Regions from separate parts of the Homo sapiens genome. Here regions 2 and 3 are each linked to region 1. Evidence: fine-mapped expression QTL. A gene starts in region 1. Each other region holds a variant in brackets. All regions are shown on one strand. Distances are between the middles of the regions.

Region 1 (9,732 bases):
TTTTGGTATTTAATAAACGTCTTCTGACCTGGTCCTCCTTCGTACCTCAACCACATCAGACACAGCGTCATGATGATTTTTCCCCTGAGCAAAGTGGCTTTGTGTGAAGTTGCTAGGCCTGAGTTTCCCCATCTAAAATACGCAGGTTGACCTGGATGATCTGTGCCTCAGCTACACCTACAGACCTCTCTGCTCACCATCATGAGTGCCCCTAGCAAAGGGAGACAGGGGCCCTGGGGTGTTGGGAGGAATGGACACTCAATTTCCAGTCAGGCATTGAACAGGTCAGTGGATTAGTGGGTCTGTGATTCATTCATCCATCCATTTTGTCAACCATTTGTTAGATCATTTGTCAACCAGCCAGCCAGCCCAGTGGCTGGTCAGCTCACAGCATATTCTGGTCCTTGTACTGCTTCCAGCCCAGTAAACTCAACCAAAGAGAAAGAGAACAGAAGAATGAGAATAAACAAACTCCAACTGCCCACAACAACACACTGAGTGAAAGAAGCCAGACCCCAAACTGAACATACTGTATGATTTTCTTTGTATTATAAAAGTGTCACACACACACAAAAAGTGTCAGTACATCCAAAACCAACCGAAAGTGTCAGAAGCCATGATAAGGATTATCCTATGCAGGGGATCAGGGAAACGGTAAGTAGTGACTGGACGGCAGCTCATGGGGCTTTTGGGATTCTGGTAATATTCTGTTTCTAAATCTGGGTGCTGGTGACACAGTGTTTGCCTAGCGAAAATTCATTGAATTGTACATTTAAGTTTTTACACTTTCCTGTATCTACGCTATGCTATAGTTCAATAAAAATTTACCCAAAAAAATAATAAAAGAAAGAAAAGAAAAGCAAGAAAAAGCAAGGAAATGCACAGAGCAGTTAACTCAGCAATTCCAGTTCTAAGAGCTGCTTATCCTGTAGTTATCCTTCCAGGTGGGCAAATGATGGAGGGGCATGATGTTCCTGGAAAACTGGAAACCTAAAAGTCTTGGTTATTCAACCAGAATGTTAAATAAACAACACATCCATATGATGGAATATTACTTAACCATTACAAAGTATGATCGTTATGTACCAATTGCAATAAGCCCTTAGACTGAAAAGTCAGTAAGTGAGCCCAGGAGGTATACAGCACTACCCTCTGTAGCAGCAAGCGTGCATAGCCACAGGCTCTCTCTGGAACGACACAGGAGAAAGTGGTGGCATTCTGGCCTGCAGGCTCACGCTCTCCCCTTAGGGGATGTTATCTGTGGCCACATCCAGTCTGCCTGCCAGACCATGCTCTTCCCGAGGGTCTACGGAGCCTGGTGCCAGTAGTCTTAGTTCAGTCTCCAAGTGAATGATTCGCAATAGTCTGTAGCTTACAAATTGCCATCCCTCTGACTGCGGGCAGGGCCAGATTCAGGGGTTTGGCGACGACCACAGACTGTCTGTCCATCTGGAAGATGGGCTAGATGTGCGCAGAACAGGGGCTCATGGCTGAAGAGGGCACAGTTCCCACATGCGCCTGCTGTCCAAGGAGCAGAAACAGACCCTGGGGCAAGAGAAGCCAGAGTGCCAGTTCAGGGAGAGCTGCTGCCGCCTTCTGTCCTGCAGGAAAGAAGACTTGGCAAGGTCACACCGGCAAAACAAGGATTTGTATGCAGGTCTGACTCCAAAGCCCGGGCATGCTGCCTTCTGCAGAGGCCAATCAGGGAGGGCTTCACTGGGGAGTCATATGCAGTCTTTTTTTCTTTTTTTTTTTCTTTTTTGAGACGGAGTTTCACTCTTGTAGCCCAGGCTGGAGTGCAATGGCATGACCTCGGCTCACTGCAACCTCTGCTTCCTGGGTTCAAGCGATTCTCCTGCCTCAGCCTCCCGAGTAGCTAGGATTACTGGCTGATTTTTTGTATTTTTAGTAGAGACGGGGTTTCACCATGCTGGCCAGGCTGGCCTCAAACTCCTGACCTCAGGTGATCTGTCTGCCTCGGCCTCTTGAAGTGCTGGGATTACAGGCGTGAGCCACCGCGCCCGGCGGTCTCATGCAGTTTTGCAAAGTCAAAGCAGACGAGGGTTGGCATGTTCCACGCAGAAGGAATGCTGTCTAGAAACAGAAGAGAGTGGCGTGACCTTGAGAGTACAGGGTTCTGTATTGGGTCAGTGGGGGCAGGAAGGCAGCAGGGAAAGCAATTTGGGAAACTGGTCAGAAATGATGCAGGAAGTGCTGGCTGGAGCCTGGCTACAAAGACTCATGGGTTCCTGGCCATGGAGCCTGAAGTCAGTCCTATAACTGTTTGGATTCCAACTGACGGCTTGAATACAGGTTCAGCTCCACCTCTGCTTCCAGAAGATCATTCTGGCAGTGAGGTGAGGGCAGATTGTAGGGCGTCTGGCTGGAGGGAGGGAGACCTGTTGGGAGGCAGTGGCAACAATTCAGGTGAGCAGGTGGTGGCCAGGACAAGGGCTGGCGTGGGTGACATAAGAGTTTGAGAGGAACTGAGAAGGAAGAAGGGCATGTAATTGGCGGAAGACAGCAACTGTGCGAAAGGGAGGAGGTAAAGGTGACGCTCAGGTTTCTAGATCAAGGAACAGGGTCTCCAGTTGTACCCTTCACGGAGGTGAGAAATCCAGATTTGGCTGGAATCCGAGTTCAGTTTTTTGTTTGTTTTTTTGAGACTGAGTCTCTGACGCCCAGGCTGGAGTGCAGTGGTGCGATCTCGGCTCACTGCAATCTCTGCCTCCTGGGTTCAAGCGATTCTCCTGCCTTAGTCTCCTGAGTAGCTGGGATTACAGGCGCCTGCCACCGTGCCAGGCTAATTTTTGTATTTTTAGAAGAGACGGGGTTTCATCATGTTGGCCGGGCTGGTCTTCAACTCCTGACCTCAGGTGATCCGCCCGCCTCGGCCTCCCAAAGTGCTGGGATTACAGGCGTGAGCCACCGCGCCCGGCCCTGAGTTCAGTTTTTTTAAGGACACAATTAGAGGTGCTCACGGGATGTTCAAGCAGGGAGGCTGGTGGATACCTTCGATTCGCTCGTTCACCTACGTGGACTTATTAAACAGCCAGGCTCCCTGGCCTTGGGAGAGTCCTTCTGGTGGGGAGACAGATGATAAATAACTGAAGTAATGGAAAAGGGGCAGTTCAAGAAAAGTGTTGTGGAGGAAGAAAACAAGAAAGCCCGCCAGAAGGGGACTGGAGGTCGGCCCCGAGGGTGTGTCCGCTAGAGGGGGCCTCTCCAGGTGGACTGCGGGTGAGAGTAAAGGGGGCATGTGGGGGAAAAGCATTCTAGGGAACAGCAAGTGCGAGGACCTGGAGACGGCAGAGGGGCTGGTGGGACAGGCGCCCAAGAGGAGGCCCAGGCTGTCCCTCCGGGGCGTGGGGAGAGGCATGGGGCTGGGTCCCTGCAGGAGCTCACAAGCCACAGTGGGGAGCAGAAGCGTTACGCTGAGTACAGTGGGAGCCACTGAAAGGGTTAAAGACCCCTGGGGGTGCTGAGTGGGAAGAGGCTCTGGGAGCTGGAGTGGACGCAGGGAGACCAGTTATAAGGCGAATGCAGGAGTCCAGGCAAAAGAGAATATTCCAGTGTGTATCTTAAGACTTAACTTTTTACACACAGAACACCCTGCGCCCCTCTCAGAGCCTCCGGGGTCTTCATGCGAGCAGTTTATCACGGTTCTTTCGTCTTAAACCCTCTTACTATTTCAGCAAACACCCTCTCCTCAGCCTGGTCAACCCCTCTGCCCAACCCGAGTGGGCCCCGAAGGAACAAGTGGGGACCAGAGTCCTGCTCATGTGAGTGGTGGGGCCCAGCCCGTTCCCCTAAGACCAGAATTCTCTCGCTCAGAGCAAAGCCCCGGGGTGCCGGGATTCTCTCTCTGCTCCCGCTCCCTGGATGGAGCTTTTAAAAAAGGAGGATTCCTCACTGCGGCCTCTGCCCCTTGCACTGAGCGCCAACCCGCATCACAGCTCAGCAAAGGCGCGCGCAGTGAACAGACGGAGGAGGGGTGGCTCCTCGCTGAGCTGAAGGCTGCGGCGACGAAAATAAACAGCATGGTTCCTGCTCTCCACGAACCTGGCGCTGCAGACGTGGGCAAACCACACCAAGAGACGCGAGCAACCGAAATATAGGGAGAAAAAAAAAGGTGCCCTGGACAGCGGGCTAGATGTCTCCTGCAGGCTCGAGGACTTCCCGGAGGGGGCGGCGTTTTCTCGGGGCCTGGGAAGAATGGGCGGGTTTCAGCGGGCGCCTTCTGGGTGACTGCCCGTTTCGGCTTCCCCTGACCCCGTAACAGAGCGGAAGAGGCCCAGAGACGCCAGAGGAGGGGCGTCAGCGGGACACTCAGGCCAATAAGCTCTGACTCCCGCTGTCTGCAAAAATGACCGGATGCAGGAATGTCACCTAGAACCGGCCAGCTTTCCGACCTCTCCGGTCAAGGACGCATTCCTAAGAGACGAAGGGAGAATGACAGAAGTTAAAAACAACCAAACAAAAGCCAGGTTGAGGCCTCTAGGTGGGTCTCCGCTACCGATGGATTCAGCCGGTGGGGCTGCAGGAGGTTCCTATAAGCGTGGTCCCCTCTCCCCGCACCGAGTCCGGCCCCGGCCCTGGGATTTCCCCAGCCGCCGCCCCGCCCCCTCCGCCCCGCCGCCCCCGCCGCCCCGCCGCCCCCTCCGCCCCCGCCGCCCCCTCCGCCCCCGCCGCCCCCTCCGCCCCGCTTGCCCCTGGCGCCGCTGCGACCTTTCCCTTACTTTCCAGGGCCTCAGGCCCCGCCCCTCGCTCCGACCAAAACACGTGCCGCGTCCCGCCCTGCCCGATCACGCCGCGGCCAGGCTCCGATCACGCGGCCCCCCGCGGCGCTCATTGGCCGGCCGGGCACGAATTGGCTGGTGGTGGCCGGCCCCGCCCCGGCAGGGGCGCGGTGTATTTTGGTTCGCCTCCGCGCCCCGCCCCGCCAGCCGCTCCCTCCGCGGCCGCCCCGCCCCTCCCGCGCCGCGAGGGCCGCGCCGGGGCAGAGCCGCGCGGGCGGGCGAGGCGCGTGCCGGCCGCAGGAGCTCCGGGTTGCCGCCGCCGCCGCCGCCCGCAGCCCACGTGCGGCCGCTGCTGCGCCCGAGCTCACGCCCCGCGGCCGCTTTGTTGCTCCCGGCCGGCCTGCACGATGCACACGCCGGACTTCGCAGGCCCAGACGACGCGCGCGCAGTGAGTGGTGGGGCTGCCGCGGCGGGACTACTCGTCTGAGCGAGGGGCGAGGCGGGGGAAGTGGTGCGGCACTCGCGCGCCTGTAAATGCGGGAGGTGGGGCGTGCAGGGCTTCGCTGCGGCCGCGCCGGTAGGGGCCTGGGCGGGCTCCGGAGCCGGGCGGGGCGGCGGCCGCGACGGGCGCGCCCGGGTCGGCGGGGGCGAGGAGGGGGCGTGTTCCCCGCGCAGCTTTGTCTTGCGCTTCCTGGGCGGCCCCGCCCCGCTGGCCCCGCGGCTATTTCCAGCCATGACGTCACCCCGGTCCTGTGAGCCGGACGGCCGTTGGGCGGGGGAGCGGCTGGCGGGAACGCGGCACGCGGCCTTGGGGGCGGGGCAAGAGCTGCTGGCGGGAACGCGGCACGGTTTTGGGGGCGGGGCACGCGGCCGTCGGGCGGGTTAAGAGCGGCTAGCGGTAGTGCCGCTCGGGCCTGGGGGCGGGCAAGGTCTAGGGGCCGGGGCAACGACGGGAGGCGGGAGCGCCGCACTGCCTTGGAGGCGGGGCAACGCTTGGAGGCGGGAACGCGGCACGCGAGCGTTGGGGGCCCTAAGCGTCGCGACCTGGGGGCTTCGGGGAGGTAGCCGTGGACGTGGGCAGAGCGCGGGCCTCGTGGTGTGCGGGCACTGTGGGCCGGGCGAGCCCCTTCCCGCCCGTGTGGTGAGTCGGCCTCGGCGCCCGGTTCTGTGACATCACAGGGGGTTTAGTGGCGCAGCCTGCGGGACAGAGGCCGGGGATTTGAGGTGGCCTCGTCTTGTTTGATCTCGGGGAACCTCGGCAGACGGAAAGCTTTGATGCTTTGGTGCATGGCAGATAGAGAGGAAACGTGTATCTTCGTACATTTAAAGTTTCCTTTCCTTTTTTTTTTTTTTGATAGGGAGTCTCGCTCTATCGCCCAGGCCGGAGTGCAGTGGGCGCGCGATCTCGGCCCACTGTAACCTCCCTGGGAGGGAGGGGTATTACTCTTCTCAGAGTAATATCACCCTCTCGCCCCCGGCTTAGTTTTCTTTTGGAAGAGATCAGCTCATTCCAGCCTCTTCCCTCCTCCCCTCCAGATTAAAGAGACGGTGAGGGTCTGGTGCGGTGGCTCACGTCTGTAATCCCAGCACTCTGGGAGACCGAGGTGGGCGGATCACCTGAGGCCGGGCTTTCGAGACCAGCTTGACCAACATGGGGAAAACCGCTCTCTACTAAAAATACAAAAATCAGCTGAGCATGGTGGTGGGCGCCTGTAATCCCAGCTACTGGGGAGGCTGAGGCAGGAGAGTCGCTTGAACCTGGGAGGCAGAAGTTGTGGTGAGCCGAGATGGTGCCACTGCACTCCAGCCTGGGCAACAGAGCAAGACTCTGTCTCAAAAAAACAAGGCCGGGCGCCTGTAATCCCAGCACTTGGGGAGGTCAAGGCGGGTGGATCGCCTGAGGTCAGGAGTTGGAGACCAGCCTGGCCAACATGGTGAAACCCCGTCTCTACTAAAAATACGAAATTTTCTGGGCGTGGTGGCGGACGCCTCCCAGCTACTCTGGAGGCTGAGGCAGGAGAATCGCTTGAACCCGGGAGGTCAGTTCAAGGCCAGCTTGACCAACATAGCAAAACTCTCTTTCTACTAAAAATACAAAAATTACCCAAGTGTGGTGGCGGGCACTGCAGTGAGCCGAGATTGTGCCACTGCACTCCAGCCTGGGCAACTGAGACTCCATCTCAAAAAGAAAAAAAAAACTGCAAAGAGATCCTCTCCGGGTTCGCGGCAGGTTGGCTTCTTGTCACCACCTGCTAGCCTTGGGACAGTAACAGATGACTTCCACTCCCGAATCTGTGGAGGGAACTGGTGGAATCGCCATGGGCCCTACCTGCGTGGAGTGCTGGAAGCCTAGGCGGAAGGCCCCAGAGTCCCTGAGAGCATCTGTAGGGACACTGCTTTGGCGGCTTTGCCGCCTCAGAGAGCCATGGTCAGGGCGCCGCGGCCACTGGCAGACCGACTAGATGGCCTCAGTGTTGGCTCCTCCTCCCTGGGCAGCTGCTCCTCCTCCCAGCCACTTTTTGGCTTGAACCTCAGGAGTTAATTTTATTAATCATTTACCCAAGAAAAATATGAACTTAGTAGCCCTTTTTAAGAGTCAGGATTTTTGGTGGCAACGCTTGCCAGCTTAGTTCTGTCTGTGAAATGTTGGCTTAAAAGCCGAATTGTCATGAGCATTCCTTGAATGTCTTTTACTACACCTCGGTGTTTGTTGCTATAGACTATTGCATGTGCATTACATGCCTACTGTAGGCTTCTGATATGCATATCCACATGCCCATCATGGGTGGCCTCTGTATTTCCCCTGCACTGAGAAGCCGTTGTGTTGTGTCGCCTTTAGGTTGACATCATGGACATATGTGAGTCCATCCTGGAGAGGAAGCGGCATGACAGCGAAAGGTCTACTTGCAGCATCTTGGAGCAGACAGACATGGAAGCTGTCGAGGCTCTTGTTTGTATGAGCTCCTGGGGTCAAAGATCCCAGAAAGGTGACCTGTTGCGGATAAGACCCCTCACGCCTGTCTCTGACTCTGGGGATGTCACCACCACTGTGCATATGGATGCAGCCACACCTGAACTACCAAAAGACTTCCATTCTTTATCGACTCTGGTAAGAGGAGGTGGGAGGGAGGAGCGTTTTTGTGAAATGACTAGAGTAGCTGAACTCAGTGTGTTGAAGAACTTGTGAGAAGATTCCCTGGGATGCTGGCAAATAAGTTGCGTATCCTCTCTGTGTGGGTCTGAAGGAGTAGAAACTCTTCCTTTGGCCAGGCATGGTGGCTCAAGCCTGTAATCCCAGCACTTTGGGAGGGCCAGGCAGGCAGATCACAAGGTCAGGAGTTCGAGACCAGCCAGACCAACATGGTGAAACCTCATCTCTACTAAAAGTACAAAATTTATCCGGGTGTGGTGGCGGGCGCCTGTAGTCCCAGCTATTCAGGAGTCTGAGGTAGGAGAATCGCTTGAACCCGGGAGGCGGAGGTTGCAGTGAGCCGAGATCGTGCCACTGCACTCCAGCCTGGGCAACAGAGCGCGAGACCCCATCTCAAAAAAAAATAAAAGAACAAAAAAAGAAACTTTTCTTTCATTTCTGAAAAATGTGCTCTTTCTATGGATGGATCATACCTTGCTAGCTACGTGGTTAATGTCCGTGGGATGAAACCTACAGATTAATGTGAGAAAGTGAAATTTACTTCCCCAGGGGAATCTCGGGGTGGAGCTTAGGTTCTCCAGCCTAGTGTCAGAATATATCGGTAGCAGCTGGAGAAAGCATGTACTTTGACATCAGATTGCCTTCGTTGGGTGGCACCTCTGCCCTCCCGTGGCAGCCGACTCCTTAATGTGAGTTCTGTGAGTTGGGTGCAGTAAGTCACTCTTGCTTTTTGTTTTTTTAATTTGCTACATCTGTGAAAGTACTTGGAAAAATTGCATCTCAGCTTGGAGAAGCTGAGAACTGTAGGTTGCTAACAGAAGTGGAAATTGTGATTGTCCTGGGCTGGAAGCTTGCTCTGAAAGAAGAGTGTAGAAAGCAGATTTGGAGAGGGATAGGAAGGGCCTGTGGGTTGTCGGGAGGGTTGCAGAAGTGGTGGGCCTGGCGGCCAGGAGCTCCTCTCAGAGTTCCCTGCACTGGGCTCTTGTGTAGGTTTGGGAGAGGTAAACACGTTGGGAATAAGCTGAGAAAGCAGAGTGCCTCATGCAGCCTTGAAACCCACTGGGATGTTGAAAACAGGGTTAACTGAGTGTCTAGATGATTCTGTGTAAAGGTATTGGGAGCATTGTGATGAATTAAATCCCTTTTAAAATTTAAAGCAACCTTTTAACATGGTACTTTTTTTTTTAGTGCATAACTCCTCCTCAGAGCCCTGATCTCGTGGAGCCATCGACAAGGACACCTGTTTCTCCCCAAGTAACAGATTCCAAAGCATGTACAGCCACGGATGTTCTCCAGTCCTCTGCCGTAGTGGCCAGAGCTCTGAGCGGGGGCGCGGAGAGGGGCTTGCTGGGTTTGGAGCCAGTGCCCAGCTCTCCCTGCAGGGCCAAGGGGACTAGCGTGATCCGACACACTGGGGAGAGCCCTGCTGCCTGCTTTCCCACCATCCAGACTCCAGATTGCCGGCTTTCTGACAGCAGAGAAGGAGAAGAGCAGCTTCTGGGACACTTTGAAACTTTGCAGGACACACACCTCACGGACAGTTTACTCAGCACTAACTTGGTGTCCTGTCAGCCCTGCTTGCACAAGTCTGGTGGCCTGCTGCTCACTGACAAAGGCCAGCAGGCAGGGTGGCCTGGTGCAGTTCAGACTTGCTCACCAAAGAATTATGAAAATGACCTGCCCAGGAAAACCACCCCTCTGATTTCTGTCTCTGTCCCTGCTCCCCCTGTCCTTTGCCAGATGATCCCTGTGACTGGACAAAGTAGCATGTTACCAGCTTTTTTGAAGCCCCCTCCCCAGTTGTCTGTGGGGACTGTGAGACCCATCCTAGCTCAGGCTGC
Region 2 (10,013 bases), 32 kb after region 1:
TTATTTTTCACTTTTTTTGAGATGGAGTCTTGCTCTGTCATCCAGGCTGGAGTGCAGTGGCGTGATCTCGGCTCACTGCAACCTCTGCCTCCAGGGTTCAAGTGATTCTCCTGTCTCAGCCTCCAGAGTAGCTGGGATTACAGATGTATGCCACCACACCTGGCTAATTTTTGTATTTTTAGTAGAGGTGGGGTTTTGCCATGTTGGCCAGGCTGGTCTTGAACTCCTGACCTCAAGTGATCCACTCGCTTCAGCCTCCCAAAGTGCTGGGATTACAGGTGTGAGCCACTGCGCCTGGCATATTTATTTATTTATTCGAGACAGGGTCTTGTTCTGTTGCCCAGGCTGGAGTGCGGTGGCCTGATCATAGCTCGCTGCAGCCTCAACTCCTGGGCTCAAGCAACGGTCCCATCTCAGCCTCCTGAGTAACTGAAACTACAGGCACATGCCACCACACAAGGCTAATTCTTGTACTTTTTGTAGAGACGAAGTCTCCCTATGTTGCCCAGGCTGGTCTTGTACTCCTGAGCTCAAGCGATCCCCCCACCTCGGCCTCCTAAAAAGTGCTGGGATTACAGGCATGGTGAGCCACCACGCCCAGCCTGAGAACCCTTTTTGTTTGTTTGTTTGTTTTGTTTTGAGACGGAGTCTCGCTCTGTCATCCAGGCTGGAGTGCAGTGGCGTGATTCGGCTCACTGCAACCTCTGCCTCCCAGGTTCAAGCGATTCTCCTGCCTCAGCCTCCCGAGTAGCTGGGATTACAGGTGCCCGCCACCACGCCCAACTAATTTTTTGTATTTTTAGTAGATACGGGGTTTCACTATGTTGGCCACGCTAGTCTCGAACTTTTGACCTCAGGCCGTCCACCGGCCTCGGCCTCCCAAAGTGCGGGGATTACAGGCGTGAGCCACCGTGCCCGGCTCTGAGAACCTCTTAAAGCTAAGGCAGGACATCCAGCCAAGCCCAGGGCCTGTCAGGGTGGACACTGAGCTGCCTGCTGCTGCCCTTCTGAAAGGGCAGCGGGACCCTTGCGGCAGGGGGCTTGGAATGCCTGGCGTAGGGACCTGACTTTGCACTGCTCACTAACATGAAGACACTGCAGCTTCAGGGCAGCCTTAAGGATGGAATGCCATCCAGTGCGTGAACGGCCCCCCAGAGCGGACGCAGGAGGAAGCAATTTCCCCAATGGCTCAGCCTTGCTGTTTCTGTTGTTTTCACCTGTGTTTTTCTCTGTGCCTGAGATTTTATTGCGTGGCCCTTTATCTGGCCAATTTGTTTAAGCCTTGAACTTACTTTCTCAGATGGAAAAAGCATGAGACTCCCAGAACACACAAGCTTGCTGAAGCAGCCAGGAGGAGCTGGTATGAAAAGCAAAGACACAGCAGCCCCAGATGGTGGCTCCAGCCTCCTGCAGACAGGGGCTCCTCCAGGGGGCTGCCTCCACCTGCAGATCACTGAGACACCTGGACGGACGTGGGGAACCGGCAGCACCTGGGCTGGGGCCCTGGGAACTGAGCTGAGTTCAGGACCAGTGTGTGTGTGCGCCCTGTTTGTATGTGTATGTTTGTGTGCGTGCGAGGGGTGTGTGTCATCCCTTGAGATTCTAGGGGGGCTTTGGAAAGACCAAACCACAGCTAAACAAGAAGCAGAAAACATATGAGAATGAAGCGAATAAGATCATCTCTTAAAGTTTTTGACTCTTAAAACTAAAGTTTTCGTGAAAATTAAAGTTTCAAAGGTTACTTTTTTTTTTTTTGAGACAGAGTTTCGCTCTTGTCGCCCAGGCTGGAGTGCAATGGTGGGATCTCAGCTCACTGCAACCTCTGCTCCTGGGTTCAAGTGATTCCCCTGCCTCAGCCTCCTGAGTAGCTGGGATTACAGGCATCCGCCACCACACCTGGCTAATTTTTGTATTTTTAGTAGAGCTGGGGTTTCACCATGTTGGCCAGGTTGGTCTCGAACTCCTGACCTCAGGTGATCCGCCTGCCTCGGCCTCCCAAAGTGCTGGGATTATAGGCGTGAGCCACCGTGCCCGTGCCCGGCCCAAAGGTTACTTTTTAGAAAATCCACTGCATATTTACCCAAAATAAAATATACAGTGGATTTCTTCTCCTGAAAGAGTTCTTCCATTAACTCTTAATTTTTAGCAGCTTAATATGTATGTATGTACATACACCAGTTATATGTGTAATTGGCAGAACAATTCCATTCCTTTTATTCCATAGTATGGATACACTTCCCCCTTCCTCTTTCAGAATTATCCTTCTTTGAAGCCCAGGTTTGGTTTGTTTGGCTTTTCGGTTTTCTTAAGGAAACTTGAACATGTACAGTAGAGAAACTCCTACAACGGCTCTCCTGGACCTGACCCAGCTTTCACAATTTTGCTAGTCTCGTTCTGTTGCTCACCACCAGAGGGCACTGTTCTCCCCACACAGAGGCCAAGATCCCAGTGCCCTGGGGAAGCTCCACTGTAGGGCTTTGCAGGCAGCAGAAGCTGAGCAGTGCAGGTGGAGGAGCGGTGGGGGAGCGGTGCAGGCAGGCTGTGAGTCGGAGAGTGGTGCGGGTGGGCTCTGCGTAGGGGGGGATGGCGCAGGTGGGGTCTGCGCGGGGGAGCAGTGCAGATGTGTGGGAGCAGAGCAGATGTGTGGGAGCAGTGCAGATGTGTGGGAGCAGAGCAGATGTGTGGGAGCAGAGCAGATGTGTGGGAGCAGTGCAGGTGGGCTCTGCATGGGGGGGCGGTGCAGGCTGGCTGTGTGGGAGTGGTGCAGATGGGCTCTGGGGGGCAGCGGTGCAGGTGGGCTCTGCGATGAGACCTGTCTTGCATGGCTAACATGACAAGGACGTGACAAGGGGCTCTGGGAACCGCCCCCCCCCCCCCCCCGGCTGTGGGCTGCCAGTCCAGGGCCCGTCTCCACTGGGAAGGCCTTGCCTTGAAGGAGGTGTTTCCAAAGCCACAGGGAAAAAGGCAAGGGAGACCCAGAGAGGCTGTCACTGGACTCAGGGTCTGAGAGACTTGTCCGTGCTAACAGGGTGTGGATTGCGGTTGGCCTGACCTGCAAACAGGCACCCTCCCACTCCTTGCTGGGCCCCAAAGTCCTCCGATGTAAATAAGAAGGTGGGACTGAACCATCTGTGAGGTCCCTTAAGCTCAAGTCATCTCGGATTTCAGCAATAGAAAGAAATGACAGCTGTCTGGCCATATACTATCAAGAAACAGAGCTTGGTGGGAATCGGAATGGGTGGCCTTGGGCAGGGGGCTGCTTTCCCTGCTGGGTAATGGGCTCACGGCATTTAGGGGCAGAAGGGCCTGTGTTGTGCACAAACCACTGCTCTGACCCTCCTTCCCAGAGTCTAGTTAGGGTCTGCCCCAGCCCTATGGGACTCAAAGCTCCAAGGTTAAGAGCTCTTGGTCAGCATCTCTCGAAGAGTGCATGAGCCGACATCCTCCTTTCCACGGCATTTCTACACCCTGCCGTGCCCAGTACTCAGCAGCAGCCACCACAGCCTCTCAGCAGGGCAGGAAATGTGAGGCTGTACCCCTGACCGTGATGCAACCAGGCTTCTAATCACCTACAGCAGCCAGCAGCCAGGGACCATGAAGGGAGAGAGCCTCTGAGGCTGCCCGCTCCTCCCCCGGGTCGAGGCACTGGGCTTCTAACATCTTTTAATCCTACTCTTTTTATAGAACTCCAGAGAGGACAATTCTTCCTTCAGTTTTTGATGTTCATGTTCCAGGCTTGGCATCCTTCCCCACCCATCCACACGCTCTCCCTCAGCAACTGTACTCTGGTATGGCATCAGCCACTATCCAAATGCTGATGTCCACGAAATGACAGCTCCAGCTCCAACCACTTTTCGCAGTTGACAGGAATTTCGGACAGCCCACGGAAATTATCCACCTAGGACTCAAAACTCAACTTGTACAAAACTAGGCCCATCCTGTTAATAGCATTCTGAATCTTCTCAACTACACAAGCAGGGAATCTTGGAGTCTTTCTAGAAACTCACTTTCCCTTGCTTGTCAAACTCAGTGGCTCACCTCACCTCCTCCTCCACCTCTCACCTGGATTCCTCCCTTACCTGGGCTCCTGCCCCCATGCAGTCTCCCCCAGTACAACCTCCCCCGCCACTGTGGATCCTTCTATTACACAGGCTGGGAAGACACACAAGAAACTGAGAAGCTGCTTGTCTCTGGAGAGGGGAGCTGGGGAAAGAGTTGGGAGGAAGGGAAATTTTCTTTGCAATGCATGTTTTCAATGTCCCCTCATGTGCCTGTGTATTACCTCTTCTAATTTTTAAAATAAACATTTAAAAATAATGAAACACAGAAAACTTCGCCTAGCTCCCCACTGCCTACAGGACAGTTCAACCTCTTAGCTTGGAATCCTGTGAAAATGTGACCCAAACCCGTCTCATTGGTTTCTGCTCTCCGACATCACCTGGCTGAATGGCACATAAACTCCAGGCTGTTCAAAAGCACTTCTGGGCCAGGTGCGGTCGCTCATGCCTATAATCCCAGCACTTTGGGAGGCTGAGGCGGATGGATCACTTGAGGTCAGAAGTTTGAGACCAGCCTGGCCAACATGGCGAAACCCCGTCTCTACTAAAAATACAAAAATTACCTGGGCATGGTGGCACATGCCTGTAGTCCCAGCTACTCAGGAGGCTGAGACAGGAGAATTGCTGGAACCCGGGAGGCGGAGGCTGCAGTGAGCCGAGAATGCGCCACTGCACTCCAGCCTGGGCAAGATAGAGTGAGACTCCATCTCAAAAAAAAAAAAAAATCGCTTCTGGACCTCTGGAGTTTTCTACACATTGTTTCCTCTTTATGGAAAGCTCCACCCTTTGTCAACCGCTGGAACACATTAGTGATCCTTTAGAACCAACTCAGACACCAGATCCACTGGAAGACTTCTGCCTCGGGTGGGATTCCCACGCCTCCACGTGTGCAGACGCACTGGAGCATGCCTTTACAACATGCTTCCACGGGAACTTGCAAACGTGCATTTACGCACCCCTTCCCAACACGGTTATGAGCTTTTTGGGGGTCCGCACCATCCTTTCTTCTTGTCCCCTGGATCAATTGAAATATCACTCATTGCCATTTAAATTTGTGTTCTTTGCTACAGACTTGAACGCAGGCAGATAGTCACCGTCTTCAGGACAGTGACTTTGTTTTGCTGCAAGTCCATTAAGTTACCCATCACCTTGACGTCCTTCTGTGGAGGTGCTGTCCCGCCAGGCACTCACTGTGACTGCTCTCTTTACACCGTGAGTTCCATAGCAGCTGCATGCCAAGATTACTGTAAAGTCCTGGCTGGGGTAACAGGCAAGAAAGAATTATCCGGATGCTCCATGGCTACAGCAAATGGAACCTTTCCAAAAATGGTGGATGACAGAGTCCCTCAGCCTAAGGAGAGGACACTATTGCCCGAGACTCTCTTGCAAAACAGAAAAATTCTCAGATAACGTACTTCCCTTGACCTTGAGTGACCCAGGTTTATAGGCAGAGGGAGGAAAACAATCTGAATTACCACCTGCTAATAAAAATACTGAATCTGGCTAGGCACAGTGACTTACACCTGTAATCCCAGCACTTTGGGAGGCCAAGGCAGGGGGACCACCTGAGGTCAGGAGTTCAAGAACAGCCTGACTAATATAGTGAAACCCCATCTCTACTAAAAATACAAAAAAATTAGCCAGGCGTGGTGGCATGCTCCTATAGTCCCAGCTACTCGGGATGCTGAGACAGGAGAATTGCTTGAATCCTGGAGGCAGAGGTTGCAGTGAGCCGATGCACTCCAGCCTGGGCGACAGACCAAGATTCCATCTCAAAAATAAAATAAAAATTAAAATTAAAATACTGAATCTATGTCTACTTGATTAAACCAAAATTTCTTCTCCAAGGGTTCCTTCAAATTTCACGAGGGCATCTAATGCTCAAAACCTCCTCTTATCCAGCCCATTCTGGGACTAAGATTTTCTGGTGAATTCCAGGTCCAGCAGCACCATCCCTACCGCCATCCACTACTGCTGCGCTGTAAAAAGAGCCTTCCTACAAGAGCTGACTGCACCGC[C/A]CTCCTTGTGTCCTATTCTCCATGAACTCCAGCCCAAGGCGCCTCCCACCACTCTCTGACCCATCTCTCACCAAGGACCTTGAGACCTCCCGAGTGGCTCAATTCAACCACCAGCTCTCAGGCTTCCCGCATATATCCCACCAAGCAGCACTTCCAGCAGCTGAGCACGCCCTCCGTCCTAAGCACCTTCCTCCCTTGGCTTCCGGATGTTCTCTTGGTTTTCTCCCCTTTACTGGCTGTTCTTTAGGATGCCTCTATCTCCTCAACCTTTGAACAGCGTGCTCAACCCCTGGCCTCGTCCCACGTTAGTTCACATACACGAAGCTCCCAGGACAGAGCCCGGTGCCCATCCATGCTTCCTAAGCACACGCTGGCAGCATCGTCACTGGTGATCCCATCTAATCTCATGGGTTTAAATCCTCCCATGTTCTAATGGCTTCTAAACGAACTCCAAACCTGACCTCTCCCCTGAATGCCAAACTCTTACAAAGATCTACTCACTTGACATTTCTGTTTGGATGTCTGACAGGCATCTCAAATTTAACATACTGAAAACCAACTTCCTGGTTAATGACACCCCAAACCTGCCCCTTCCACATTTTCTGTGTCTGTTCACGGCAGCTACATCCCTCCAGCTGCTCTGGCCAAGAACTCCTGGTTCACCTTTGATTCCTTTCTTTCTCACACATCCCAGTCACCCCACTAGTGAGTCCATAAGCCAACCGCCCCTCACCACCGCCCGCCAACCTGGTCCAAATGACCCCACATCTCACTTGGATGACTGCAGAAGCTCCCCTCCCCCAGCACAACCCCAGCTTCTGTGCCTGCCACCTCACTCCCCCTTTCTTCACTCCAGCGAGACTCTGTCTCAAAAAACAAAAACAAAAACAAAACATAATATTCAGAATGATGATTCAGGGATAAACAGACCATCTCTAAGACATTCCCAGTCAACAGTGGTCAAAATTTTTAAATGTGAGTGCTTAAAAGAATAACTTTCACTTGAGTTTGATGTTCTTTTATGAAGAATATGTCTCTCCTCCAAAATGCTAGACAGTTATGAAGCTATTAAAGGTTTCTTTTCCTCCTTTCTTCCTAAAGAAACTAAAAGTAGTGTTATTGGCCGGGTGCAGTGGCTCACACCTGTAATCCCAGCACTTTGGGAAGTCAAGGCGGGTGAATCACCTGAGGTCAGGAGTTCAAGACCAGCCTGGCCAACATGGTGAAACCCTGTTTCTGCTAAAAATACAAAAATTAGCTGGCCGTGGTGGCGCACATCTGTAGTATGCAGGCGTTATCTGAAAATAATGAATTGGACCCAAGGGCTCCCTTCCGCCTCGAATAATCTGTGATTCTAGGATTCATTTATTCAAGAAATATTTATGGTGCAGAAAATACATACAGTCGGCTGGGTGAGGTGGCTCATGCCTATAATCCCAGCACTTTCGGAGACCAAGGTGGGCGGGTCACCTGAGGTCAGGAGTTTGAAACCAGCCTGGCCATCATGGCAAAACCCCGTCTCTTCTAAAAATACAAAAATTGGGCGTGGTGGCAGGCACCTGTAATCCCAGATACTCAGAAGGCTGAGGCAAGAGAATCGCTTGAACCTGGGAGGCACAGGTTGCAGTGAGCCGGGATCACACCACTGGACTCTAGCCTGGGCAACAGAGTGAAACTCCGTTTCAAAAAAAAAAAAAAGAAAGAAAGAAAAAAGATACACACAGTTCACACCCAGAAGGGCAACTGCAGCTGGCTGACCTCCTCAACAATTCCTGAAACCATCTCCTCTGCAAGCCTCTCACCGCCACTGCCTTGGTTCAGGACTCGGCCACCTGGATCATTGCAGACTCCCCCACCCACTCACACAGGTGGTCATGTTATCCCTAGTCTGACTCTGTCCAGTTCATCCTCCCTACAGTTGTCGGTGTGACGTTCCTAAAACACAAACTGTCACAATCCTTACCTTTCAGATACCCAGAACTTTCATAGTAACCCAAACTCGCTAACATGGAATACCCTTGGCATGGCGCACTGCAGCCTGGCATACTCTCCTAAGACCTCTCTGACCCATGCCCTGGGCACCAGCTGCCCCAGCCACCAGTGACATTAGGCATGAGGTTCTCTCTGCACAGAACTTGCTGCCTGGATCACGTCCACAGACCCTTCCAGATTCAGGACAACTTCCAAATTCATCCCTTCGGGAATGCCTACCTGCCTCCCTTGGGATTAGCCGCTTTCTCCTGTGGCCTTTTGATACGGATCTCTCATCGCCCTGCTTTCTACTTTCCCCCATCGAGCTGCAGACTTCTTTAAGGCAAGGGCTATGCTGTGTGGCCTCATCCCTAGCACCCACAGCGGGACCGGTGCTCAAAGGATAGCTGGAAAATGACTTAAAGAGCGAGCAGTCACCATGATGAATAATATCAGCAAATCAGAGGGCACAACATTCACTCTTGCTATTTGCCTCTCATTTTCACCTCCGAGTTTCCAAAGCACTTGAAAATGAACACTAAAATTAACTGCCTCCTTGCTATGTGTGAATTCCTCCCAAATTTCTCAGCTATTTGTCCAGGCAGTGTTATATAACTGCAGGCTGATGTGGTATTAAAGGAATCTTGTTATATAATTCAGCCCTACTCACTGCAGCTCGCTTTTCCTCTTTAAAGACCGTAAGGGAGAGGAGCAGGGAACCAGGGCCAGAGGGAGAGAGCTCTGTGCACTGTCGCCTGGGGCTGTCCCTCTCCCCCACCCTCCCTGGGGCCTTTTCAGGATTCCTTGGTGCGGTAGCCACCCAGGAAGGCATCTTCCTCGGCTCCCAGCGGCTGCTAAGCAAAGCCTCCCGGGCCTCAGGGAGGAGGACGAGGCCCTTGGCATCCTCCCCGAGCCCGGGAGCGGATGTTAAAGATCTTGTTCATTCAGCTCTGCTGGAGCGAAGACGGTTGCCAAACCAGAGTGCTTGTTTTATTGTTTTTTTAGAACAGCAGGACTGTTATTACGAGTATTCAGGGAGAGAGAATAGGAAGCGCAAAAGAGATTCCGCAGCATCCTAAAAATATCAGTAACATGAGAATTGCCTGCCCAGCAAGGCAAGGATCTGGACCGGTGGGCGCGGCAGGGCGCTTCTGAGCCACCGTCTGGCTGCCGTGCCACCACCGCCGGCGCCCCGCTCCAGGGCGGCCCGGGAAGGCCAGGCGGGGCCGCGGGCCCGAGGGGAGCCGGGAGCCCGGCGCGCTCCGCCTAGGGGTGTCCTTCCTCGGCCGCTCCCAGCGCGATCGCCCCCACGCCTGGACACAGACCCGGAGACGGGGCAGAGAGGGAGGAAACCTGGGGGCCCAGGGGCGGGGAGGCCGGGGCAGCGGGGAGCACGCAAGTCGGAGGCTGGAAGGGGGCGCAGCGCGACCGGCGCCCAGGGCTGGGGCGGGGACGCGCGGCCGGTGAGTGGGGTCCCCGCCGTCCCCCGAGGCCCTGCGGCTCCCACACTCACCGCGCTCCCCGCGACCGCGGTGGGTCGGAGCCGGGCTGGGCGGCGCGGGGCGGGCTCCGGGGGGCCCCAGGCCGCCGACTCGGCCAGCAGCTCGTCCAGCAGGCGCAGCGTCTCGTCCCTGCCGTCGGGGGGCGCCACGGGGCTGGGGTCGCGGCCGGGCGCCTCCTCCGCGGCTGCCCCCGGGACCTCGGCCGCCGCCACCGGCACCCGCCGGCGGGTCCCGCCCTCCAGGGCTGCCGCTCCGGGCCCCGCGGGGAGGCTCTCGGGGCTGCGCCGCCGCCTCAGAGTCCGGCTGCTCCGGCTGCTGCCGCTGCCCATGGCGCGCCCGCCGCCTCCCGGACCGCCGAGGGGGCCCCCATGAGGGGGCGCGGCCGGGGGCGGGGACGCTAGGGGGTGCGGCCGGGGCGGGCTGCAGGGGGAGGCGCGGGGCGAGGTCCGGGAAGCGACCGCGGC
Region 3 (10,136 bases), 23 kb before region 1:
AGGTGGGCAGGCGTGTGTATGGGCGGGTCAGGTGGGCAGGCGTGCGTATGGGCGGGTCAGGTGGGCAGGCATGCCTATGGGTGTGCGTATGGGCGAGACAGGTGGGCAGGCGTGCCTATGGGTGAGTCAGGTGGGCAGGCGTGTGTATGGGTGTGCATATGGGCGAGTCAGGTGGACAGGCATGCGTATGGGTGGGTCAGGTGGACAGACGTGCGTATGGGTGAGTCAGGTGGGCAGACGTGCGTATGGGTGGGTCAGGTGGGCAGGCGTGCGTATGGGTGAGTCAGGTGGACAGGTGTGCGTATGGGTGAGTCAGGTGGACAGGCGTGCGTATGGCTGTGCGTTTGGGCGAGTCAGGTGGGCAGACGTGCGTATGGGCAGTCAGGTGGACAGGCGTGTGTATGGGTGAGTCAGGTGGACCACTGTGTGTACGGGCGAGTCAGGTGGACCGGCGTGCATATGGGCAGGTCAGGTGGGTAGGCGTGTGTATGGATGTGCATATGGGCGGGTCAGGTGGACAGGTGTGTATATGGGTGTACATGTGTGCACAGGTGCTACTTTACTCTGTGTTCAACACGTGTTCGTGGACGTGCTCCAGGCCCAAGGCGAAGGAATAGGATGTAGCAGGGGCAGGGTCTCCGCCCCATACTCAGAGTCCTTGGGCTCCGGGAAGACACAACCGATAAGTGGTTACGGGGATGCCTGGGAGCTACGGGCACACACAGACCCTCCTGGGCCCAGCATAAGGGCCAGGGAAGACTTCCTGGAGTCCAAGTGGAAGCTGCAGGGTGAGTAGGAGGAGGGAGGGTGGGTGTCAATGTTCTAGGAGTCAGGGGCGCACAGAGTCCAGAGCAGGCACTCCAAGCATGGGATGGCTACTCTGGGGATCGCTCGAGCCGCTTGAGCATAGAGCTTATGGAGATGAGGTGGGAGGAGTGAAACCAACTTTAAATTCCCACAGCTCTGCTGGGACTGCTGGGTCCGGCCATAAGACGGTGACAGATAGCAGACTTACCTTTCCCCCATAAACAACTAGAAAACTAGACAAATTATATGAAGCAACTGTTTTTAAGCATAGGTGCCATGGCAGGGCTGTGACCCTAGAGAAGGACACACATGAGGGAGTTCCAGCTTCACCCTGGCTCTCTGCCCGGAGGTGTTTGGGGCATTTTCTGAACACAGCACAGGGAAGTAGAGCTCAGAGAGTGGTGATGGCATGGGCCGGAGCAGGCAGAGACTGGAGTTCAGGACCACCGAGGGGACTGGAACTTGTGGGGTTCCAGAGAGGAGCGGGTTGAGCAGGGAAGGAGCTTCAGACGTTTGCAGAGGAGCTCTCTTGAGTCTTTGAGTGAATACTAAACTGCACGTGCACAGGATGAGACGGCAAAGTCTGGCAGAGGAGAGCTGCTGGGAGCTGGGAGCAGAAGGGGGTGCCAGAGGATGCACGGGCACAGAGACCTTGGAGTTCTGGGCAGCCAGAGTGAAGAGACCACACCGAATATGCCAGACATTCAGCCAAGACCTCAGAAAAACCACCCTTTTTTAAAAAAGTTAGATTTATTCAGGTATCATTTACATACAGTGAAATTCTCCATTTTTAGGTGTACAACTCTATGACACATGCATACAGTCATGTAATCACCACCACAATCAAGATAGAAAACATTTCTACTGCCCAATGTTCTCTGTGCCCTTTGGTCATCCTTTCCTCCCTCCACTCCAGCCCCTGGTAACCACTGCCCTGATCTCTGTCCTTTTGAAAAGCACATGCCTCAGGTGTACTACACTAACCCTGGGGTAACGGCTGCTCTAGACCTGTCCCAACGAGCCCACAAACAAGCCTTGAGGAGCAAAACATCTACCAATAATTTAACTCATTGCCAAAACAAAATTCACTAATCTTTGAAAGAAAACAACAAAATTCAGATTCCCAACAATGTTGTATCATAATGTCCAGCATCCAATCAAAAATTATTAGACATGTAATAAAGCAAGAAAATTTGAGTCGTAACTGGAGAAAAACTAGCCCATAAGAAACCCTGTTGAAGCCGGGCATGGTGGTTCACCCTTGTAATCCCAGCACTTTGGGAGACCGAGGTGGGTGGATCACCTGATGTTAGGAGTTCAAGAACAGCCTGGCCAACATGGTAATACCCCATCTCTACTAAAAATACAAAAATCACCCGGGCATGGTGGTGTGTGCCTATAATCCCAGCTACTCGGGAGGCTGAGGCACGAGAATCGTTTGAACCAGGGAGGCGGAGGTTGCAGTGAGCTGAGATTGCGCCACTGCACTCCAGCCTGGGTGACAGAGTGACTCTCCTTCTCAAAAAAAGAAGCCCTGTTGAATTCATGGGACAAAGACAAGGTGTCTTTTGTCATTGAGTATTTTCCACTGATAGATGGTATAGCTACCACGAAAAAATATTAACATTAAAAGGAGTCTTCAAAAGTAAAAGAGAACCACGGGTATAGGAGCCAGCCAGAACCCAAGTGCACATCTAGATGGCCAATAGGTGCACAGTGTGGGCAGGCCTGGAGTTAAACACTAGGACCCAAACATGTGCACAGCCATATCACTAAGGGGTTCAGCTGGGTGAAGACACAGACATATGAGCACAGCACAGAGGGTAGATGCCACAAGAGAGGCACAAATGTCCCAGGCATCAAAGAGTGACAGATCACTTCTGCCTAGAGGAACTGTAAAAGACTTCATGAAGGAAAAATTTTTTTGAGACAGTCTCACTCTGTCACTCAGGCTGGAGTGCAGTGGTGTGATCTTGGCTCACTGCAACCTCCACCTCCCGGGTTCAAGCAAGTCTCCTGCCTTAGCCTCCCAAGTAGTTGGGACTAAAGACACATGCCATCACACCTGACTAATTTTTGTATTTTTGGTAGAGACAGGGTTTTACCATGTTGGCCAGGCTGGTCTCAAACTCCTGACCTCAGATGATCTGCCCGCCTCAACCTCCCAAAGTGCTGGGATTACAGGCATGAGCCACTGTGCCTGGCCAGCAAATTTCTTTGCACTGGGCTTTTAAAGATGATTGAGAAACAAAATAATTTTAAAATCACCTCTAAAGTCATTTATTACCCAAATGTGATCGCTGTTGGTATTCTGGTAAATTCCTTCTCTCTGAATTATCTTATTTTTTCCCAAGTGGAGCTCCATCTCCTCAATTCTGTTTTGCATTTTTCAGTTAATGTTATTTCAAAAACCATTTTATGAAAATTCTTTGTAGCAGCTATTTTTAACAGCTGTGAAATATTAACTGTCTGTGACATAATCCAATTAACTGATTCTCTGTTGTTGGGCATTTAGGTTATTTTCAAGTTCTAACTAATCCTGCAATAAGCATCTTGTTCTCCCTTGTTCTGGTTACTCTCTTAAGTTAGATTCCCAGAAATGGGATAATTGTTTCCGAAGATATTTGGGAACATCTGGGAAGTTCCTGATCTGTATTGCCAAATGACTTTTCTAGAAGGTTGTACAAATTTACATTCCCGCTACACGTACTCTCTTATGTTGTAATACATGTTTACATGCCTTTTCCCCCACAAATTATGCCCTATCCACCTTCCTGTCCCCGGTGCCTGCACAGGCAGCTGCCCAGCAGCGTCCCTTGCATCACACATGCCCATACTTGCACCATACGTGACCGTACTTTCACAGAGGAGAAGGAATATCCAGGGTCAGGGGGAACATCCCTGACAGACACTCCTGGAACCAAGACGTGGACAAGTGTGGATGGACACTTGGGTCTCTGAACTCTTTCTAGAACACCTGGCATGGAGATGAGATGGCCATCAGAGACCTGTCAGTTCTGTTTTCTCGCTTGGCGGCAGGGAAGCTGAGATCTAGGTGGGGCAAGTGGGTTCCACACGGCACAGTTCGTCCATGTCAGTGCAGTGGCTGCTTCTCGGGGTACGGCCAAGCCGGGGTCTTGCAGCCTCAGCTCCCAGCAGGACCCGCCCAGCCAGGGTCCTCAACCCTAGGCTGACATCTTGGCCTCACTGGCGTCACAGCTCAGCCCTCACCCTGCGACTCTGTGCACGTGGGGAGTGGGGAGATAAGAGCTAGAGGCAGACCTCCTAAGAGGAAGGAAAACGATGTGGACTTGGGGGAGGAAGGATCTGCCTTCCCTTTCTTCAGCGAGAGCTTCCTCTTCTCATAATACAGGGAGGACCTCAAGATGGCTGTCTCCCCCTTTAGAGATGCTGTGTCCCAGCAAAGGGGCACCTAGAACAGGAATTCTCAACCTCCCAGGACAACGGGTGGCCGCTGAGAACCCGGGAGACCTGGGGCAAGCGTCTCAGGCTTTCCTCAGCTGCTCCACCTGGAAACCGGGACGGGCAGGACCGCCTCTCGAGGCTGCTGTGAGCGTCCAGTTAGACCACGTGGGTGGGCGAGGGGCTTGTGCCTTGCCCCAAGGGGAAGCTCAACACACACCTTTATATAGGACACATTCAAGGAGGCCAAGTTCACCAGGCCACACTGCGGGGCCTATTTTTTGGGGGGGCGGGGGTGTTGGGGGACAGGGTCTCACTCTGTCACTCAAGCTGGAGTGCAGCGGTGCAATCATAGCTCACTACAGCCCCAACCTCCTGGGCTCAAGCAATCCTCCCACCTCCTGAGTAGCTGGGACTGCAGGCATGCCCCACCATGCTTGGCTAATTTTTTAATTTTTTGTAGAGACAGGCTGTCATCGCTATGTTGCCAGGCTGGTCTCAAACTCCTGGCCTCGAGTGGTCCTCCAACCTTGGCCTCCTTAAATCCTGGGATTCCAGGGATGAGCCAGCCCACCCAGCTGGAAGACTGCTGCCTTGATGGGCCCCAGTGAATCCCCTGCTATTGATGATCTTCTGTAGTTCCCTCCCACACCAGATCTGGACAGGCCTTGAGACCCATTTGGCGGATAGAATGTGGGGGAGGCCTGGCAGCTTCCTGGTCTCTGGGAAGCTGCCACGCTGTGGAGAGCTCAGGCCATCCTACTGGAGGGAAAAGCCATGCACGCAGCTGCAAGAGTGACCTTCCTCAATACCACATGCAGCAGCAGAACCACCCCAGTGACACGCACACTCGTGAGGAGGAATCAATCACCGTCATCTTAAGCCACTAAGTTTTTTTTTTTTTGAGACAGAGTCTCGCTCTGTCACCCAGGCTGGAGTGCAGTGGCGCGATCTCGGCTCACTGCAACCTCCGCCTCCTGGGTTCAAACCATTCTTCTGCCTCAGCCTCCCAGGTAGCTGGGATTACAGGCACCCACCACCACAAGCCTGGCTAATTTTTGTATTTTTGGTAGAGATGGAGTTTCACCATGTTGGCCAGGCTAGTCTCGAACTCCTGACCTCAGGCCATCCACCCGCCTCAGCTTCCCAAAGTGCTGGGATTATAGGCGTGAGCCACTGCACCCGGCTAAGCCACTAAGTTTTGAGGTGGGCTGTTACTTAGTAATGGATACCTGAACCCGGCTGGGTGCGGTGGCTCACACCTGTAATCCCAGCACTTTGGGAGGCCAAGGCAGGTGGATCATGAGGTCAGAAGATCAAGACCATCCTGGCTAACCCCGTCTCTACTAAAAAGACAGAAAATTAGCTGGGCGTGGTGGCGGACGCCTGTAGTCCCAGCTACTTGTGAGGCTGAGGCAGGAAAATGGTGTGAACCCAGGAGGCAGAGCTTGTAGTGAGCCGAGATCGTGCCACTGCAGTCCAGCCTGGGGACAGAGCGAGACTCTGTCTCAAAAAAAAAAAAAAAAAATAGATACCTGAACCTCCCTCCTCCCCAACCTCCCTCCTCCCCATCCCAGCTTTATCCTCTGGGGCTTCTCCTGTGGTGTGCAGGTAAATGTTTAACAAGCAGCTCTCGCAGGGGATTGAGGGGAGCTCATGTGAAGTGTTCGTCAACATCTGTGGTGTAAATATTCTCATCATGGCTGATTTCAAGCTACCAACATGACATGGCTGAACACGAGATTGAGAAGAAATGTGCACCATCTGTCCAGGAGCGGGCGAGCTGGATCCAGCACACCTGGATTCTCCTCCCCTGACACGTGACAACCCTGCAGAGACTTGAGATCAGCCGCTCAGATTAGGTGATCAGAAGCATTTTGTCAC[G/A]GAGACACGGAGTTCTGGGCCGGCTCTTATCTTCAGGGCATCTGGTAGGGTGGAAAGCACTTCAAGTCATGCGCCAAGCCCACGTCCTATTCCCTGGGCCCATTCCCTTCCGTTGAAGTGCTGGAGGCAGAGCTCGCAGCTGAAGACCTACAGGCGGCTCTCCCTCGTGTCTGGGCATGAGCGGTCTGTGGAGGCAGCAGCCAGGCTGTGTCCAGGTAGCCCTGACGGCCACTGCACAAGAGCAGTGTCGGGTAGAGTCCGAGCACCCATCAGCTCAGCCCCAGGCTCCATCAGAGGCGGTGGAACGGGCCCTGAGGATGCCTCAGTCCTGGGCCTTAGTGGGAGGCCTTCCAGGTGAAGCCCTGGGGACCAGGTAGCCCTGCTCAGCAAGCAGCCCTGGACCCTACCTCAGCAGCCCCGGACCCCACCTCGGCCGCCGCAGGAAGCCAAGGGGATGAGGGACCAACTCGGGAAATGGTGGGTGAGGCTGGTGGCTCCTGGAAACGCCGGTCACCAGGGCGGCAGCACCGGTCCTCACCCCTCCCTGCCAGGACTTCAGCAGCTCTCAGCCCCTAAGCATGATAGTTTCTTGGGTCAACCAAATAGTCATCTAGGGGTTACTGTGAAGGTGTTCTGTAAGTATGTCACATCTGCAGTCAGCTGACTGGAGTGAAAGGCCATTACTCTCAATCATGTGGCGGGGGTAGGGGTGGGAAGCCTTGTGCAACCAGTGAAATGCCTTGAGAGCAGAGCTGGGGTTTCCCTGAGGACAGAGAGATTTTACCTGTGGACTATAGCATCGCCTACTGCCCGAGAGGCCCAGGTGCCGCCTGCCCTATGGATTTCCACCTTGCTCAGCCAGCCCCCACCTTGTCTGAGCCAATTTTTCACAATAAATCTCTCCCTCCCTCCCTTCCTTTCTCTGTCTCATCCCCTCCATGTATATGTAATATCTCTTATGTGTCTCATAGAGAGATTTATTGCAAGGAATTGGCTATACAACACACGTACATGCATATCCACGTGTAAACATGTGCACACACACATACACACACACCACACACACCACACCCCTATCCTGCAGGTTCCTTTCTCTGCTGGGACCCTGCTTGCTTCACCAGGGGTGCTGAGCCCCTGTGTCACCAGTGGAGGTCTCAGCAGCACAAGTCCCCAGGCACAGCCCCTCAGCGCCCTGCCCTCAGCCGTGGCTCCAGGGGTGAAGTAGGACCTCAGGGTGTAAAGGCCAGTGCCACGGTTCTTATGGGGTGTGCTGCGGGAACCCTTATCTTCATGATCATGTGAACTGTGCCCCCAGTCCTTTCTGTTTCCTTGAGGGAGGCCTTGGCTTCTGGAGCCCAGAGTCAGAAAGTGCCCGGACCTCCTGTGCAGGCTGCCCCACCTGGCTCTCCCTGGCTGTGGGTCCAGGACCTCCATCCTGAGTTGGGGCAGGGAGGCTTGAGACTTGGGGAGGAGAGGGGAGATGCTGGGAGCTGGAAGAGCGTGTGCCCCCAAAACCAGCTCCTGGGGCCTGTGGGCTGTGGCCCGGGAGGAAGGGCAGAAGGCTCGGGAAGGCTGGAGTGGTCCTGCAGCAGAGTTATGGGGACACCAACTGGCTGGTTTTGGGGCAGATAGATGGGACATAGGGGTGAAGTGGCAGCAAGGGGTACCTCTTTCCATCCTAACATCTCGGCGGATGCTGAGAGGGTGTGGCTTTGAATTTCAAGAGCCCTGATGGTGAGACCCCAGCAAAGGTCTCATTGGGATCGGGGTTCTAAGGCTTAGACACTCGGGCTTCTACAGACTTTGTGACCTTGGTTGCCTGGTCCCAGGGTCCCCCACCGTGAAAGGGAGGACTCTTCCAGGCCCGGCTCTGTCCCTGGGTATCGAGACACAGGGTCTGGGTGAGGACCTCAGAGCCAGGCACTCAGTGTAGTCACAGTGTGGGGCTGCTGCTGCTGTTGCTCTATTCTTAAACGTATATTTTATTGTAGTTCTGTTCCCAGGCTGCTGTTGGGCAGTGAACAAACGGCACTGGATTCAGAGTCGGACAAACCTGGGTTCAAGTCCAATCTGCCTCTCAAGCTGTGTAGCCTTTAGCAAGTCACTTCTTCCCCTTGGGCCTCAGTTTCCTCATTTGCCATCTCACCCTTCACAGCACTGATGTTTGGATTAATGCGATGAGGCAGGTGAAAGCACTGTAAATGCCACCCAGGCACGGAGCTTTCATGGGACAGTTGAAACGCAGGTGAAATGAAAGTCAGTGTCCTGTTGTCCTCCGACTTTACATTATTAAAGAGAATTGGGCTGGATGCAGTGGCTCACAGCTATAATCCTAGCACTTTGGGAGGCCGAGGTGGGCAGATCACTTGAGGTCAGGAGTTCGAGACCAGTCTGGCCAATGTGGTGAAACCCTGTCTCTACTACAAATAAAAAATTAGTCGGACGTGATGGTGCATGGCTGTAATCTCAGCTATTCAGAGGCTGAGGCAGGAGAATCCCTTGAACCCGGGAGGCGGAGGTTGCAGTGAGCTGAGAATGAGCCACTGCACTCTAGACTGGGTGACAGAGCGAGACTCCGTCTCGAAAAAAACAAAAAAAAAAAAAGAGAATTGGTATGTGGGTGCACGCACGTGCGCTTGAGTGCACGCATAAACATGACAGGGGTGTCATGGGAACACATATGGGCTGGCTTTGACGTTTGCCATTAAAAACATGATCCCGATGAACAACCCAACAAAAACAAATTGGCAAAAGAATCCATCAGACACTTCACAGAGGAAGATACTGCATACAGAAGGCCAAAACAGCATGCGAAAATCATCGCACTTCATTAGTCATCAGGCAAATACAAATGAAACCCACAATCATAAGCCACTTCGGCCCCCCTAGGACAGTGAAAATGACACCCTGGTGCAGCAACGTCATGTGCTGGGGAGGAGTGGGGCAGCCGAGGCTCTTGCACGCCGCCATCGGGAGTGCAAGATGGTGGAGCTGCTGTGAAACAACACTGTGGTGGCTTCTTCTAAAATTAAGAATGGCCCAGCAATTCCGCGCCTACGTTTTACCCAAGAGAAATGAAAGCACATGTCCACACAAAAACTTGAATGTGAATCTTCATGGCAGCTTTATTCCTAAACATCAAAAACTGGAAGCAACCCAAGTGTGCACAAACAGATGAATGGATAAACAAACGCAGCATCAGGCAGGTAACAATGAGGGTGGCTCATGGGCCCATGGGAGTGTTAGAGGAGCCCCTGCTTACCAGGCCCCTGGTTTAACAAAACAGCCCTAGAGTGAATGCACTGGGCGCAGTGGGTGACGCCTGTAACCCCAGCACATTGGGAGGCCAAGGCAGGAGGATTGCTTGAGCCCAGGAGTTTGAGACCAGCCCTGACAACATAGTGAGACCCCATCTCTATGCACACACAAAAATTAGCCGGGCATGGTGGCATGCACCTGTAGTCCCAGCTACTTGAGAGGCTGAGGTGGGAGGATCGCTTGAGCCTGGACGTTGTATGCCACTGCAATCAAGCCTGGGTGACAGAGCAAGACCCTGATTAAAAGAAAACCCAAAAAACAAAAAAACAACTGTGGTACATCCCTACAGTACTATTCAGCAAAACCACATAAACATAAAACAAGAAAGACAGAATTACTGGTACATCCATCAACATGGATTCATCTCAAAAACATGATGCTGGGCAACGCCGCCCCCCCCCCCCCCAGAAAAAGAATAAACAGACACAGAAGAGTACAAATTGTATAATTCCATTTCTATGAGCTTCTATAATGACAAAAGAGCAGATTTGTGGTTGTCAGTAATTCCAGGGGAGAATTCACTGCAAAGGGGCACAAGAAACAGGATGAAAATGTTCTGGGCCACGTCGGGCGCAGTGGCTCACGCCTGTAATCCCAGCACTTTGGGAGGCCGAGCGGGTGGATCACAAGGTCAGGAGATCGAATCAATCCTGGCTAACACGGTGAAACCCCGTCTCTACTAAAAATACAAAAACAAAATTAGT

What was found.
Region 2: its variant is fine-mapped to the expression of KLF11 in whole blood (TOPMed, PIP above 0.99).
Region 3: its variant is fine-mapped to the expression of KLF11 in sun-exposed skin (GTEx, PIP above 0.99).

What each region holds. Positions count from the first base shown.
Region 1 is chr2:10,038,571-10,048,302 of GRCh38, forward strand. KLF11 (KLF transcription factor 11) reads left to right here and starts at 4,980. Exons shown (of 4, transcript NM_003597.5): 1 at 4,980-5,188; 2 at 7,580-7,849; 3 at 9,080-9,732. The coding sequence starts at 5,147. It overlaps KLF11-DT (KLF11 divergent transcript), which reads right to left and starts at 4,831. Exons shown (of 3, transcript NR_135558.1): 1 at 4,740-4,831; 2 at 4,063-4,434; 3 at 2,983-3,081. LOC112268412 (a long non-coding RNA gene) reads left to right here. Exons shown (of 2, transcript XR_002959369.2): 2 at 1-34. RefSeq lists a promoter at 4,238-5,137, silencers at 4,824-5,053, 5,344-5,393, 5,514-5,563, 5,604-5,673 and an enhancer at 6,897-7,636.
Region 2 is chr2:10,070,346-10,080,358 of GRCh38, forward strand. CYS1 (cystin 1) reads right to left here. Exons shown (of 3, transcript NM_001037160.3): 1 at 9,561-10,013. The coding sequence starts at 9,878. Among named protein-coding and RNA genes, the nearest start is that of CYS1, 5.1 kb to the right of the region's middle. RefSeq lists an enhancer at 945-1,446 and silencers at 9,201-9,540, 9,611-9,850, 9,911-9,970. The variant C/A (reference allele first, on the strand shown) is at 6,077.
Region 3 is chr2:10,015,796-10,025,931 of GRCh38, forward strand. No RefSeq gene overlaps it. Among named protein-coding and RNA genes, the nearest start is that of KLF11-DT, 23 kb to the right of the region's middle. RefSeq lists an enhancer at 1-197. The variant G/A (reference allele first, on the strand shown) is at 6,115.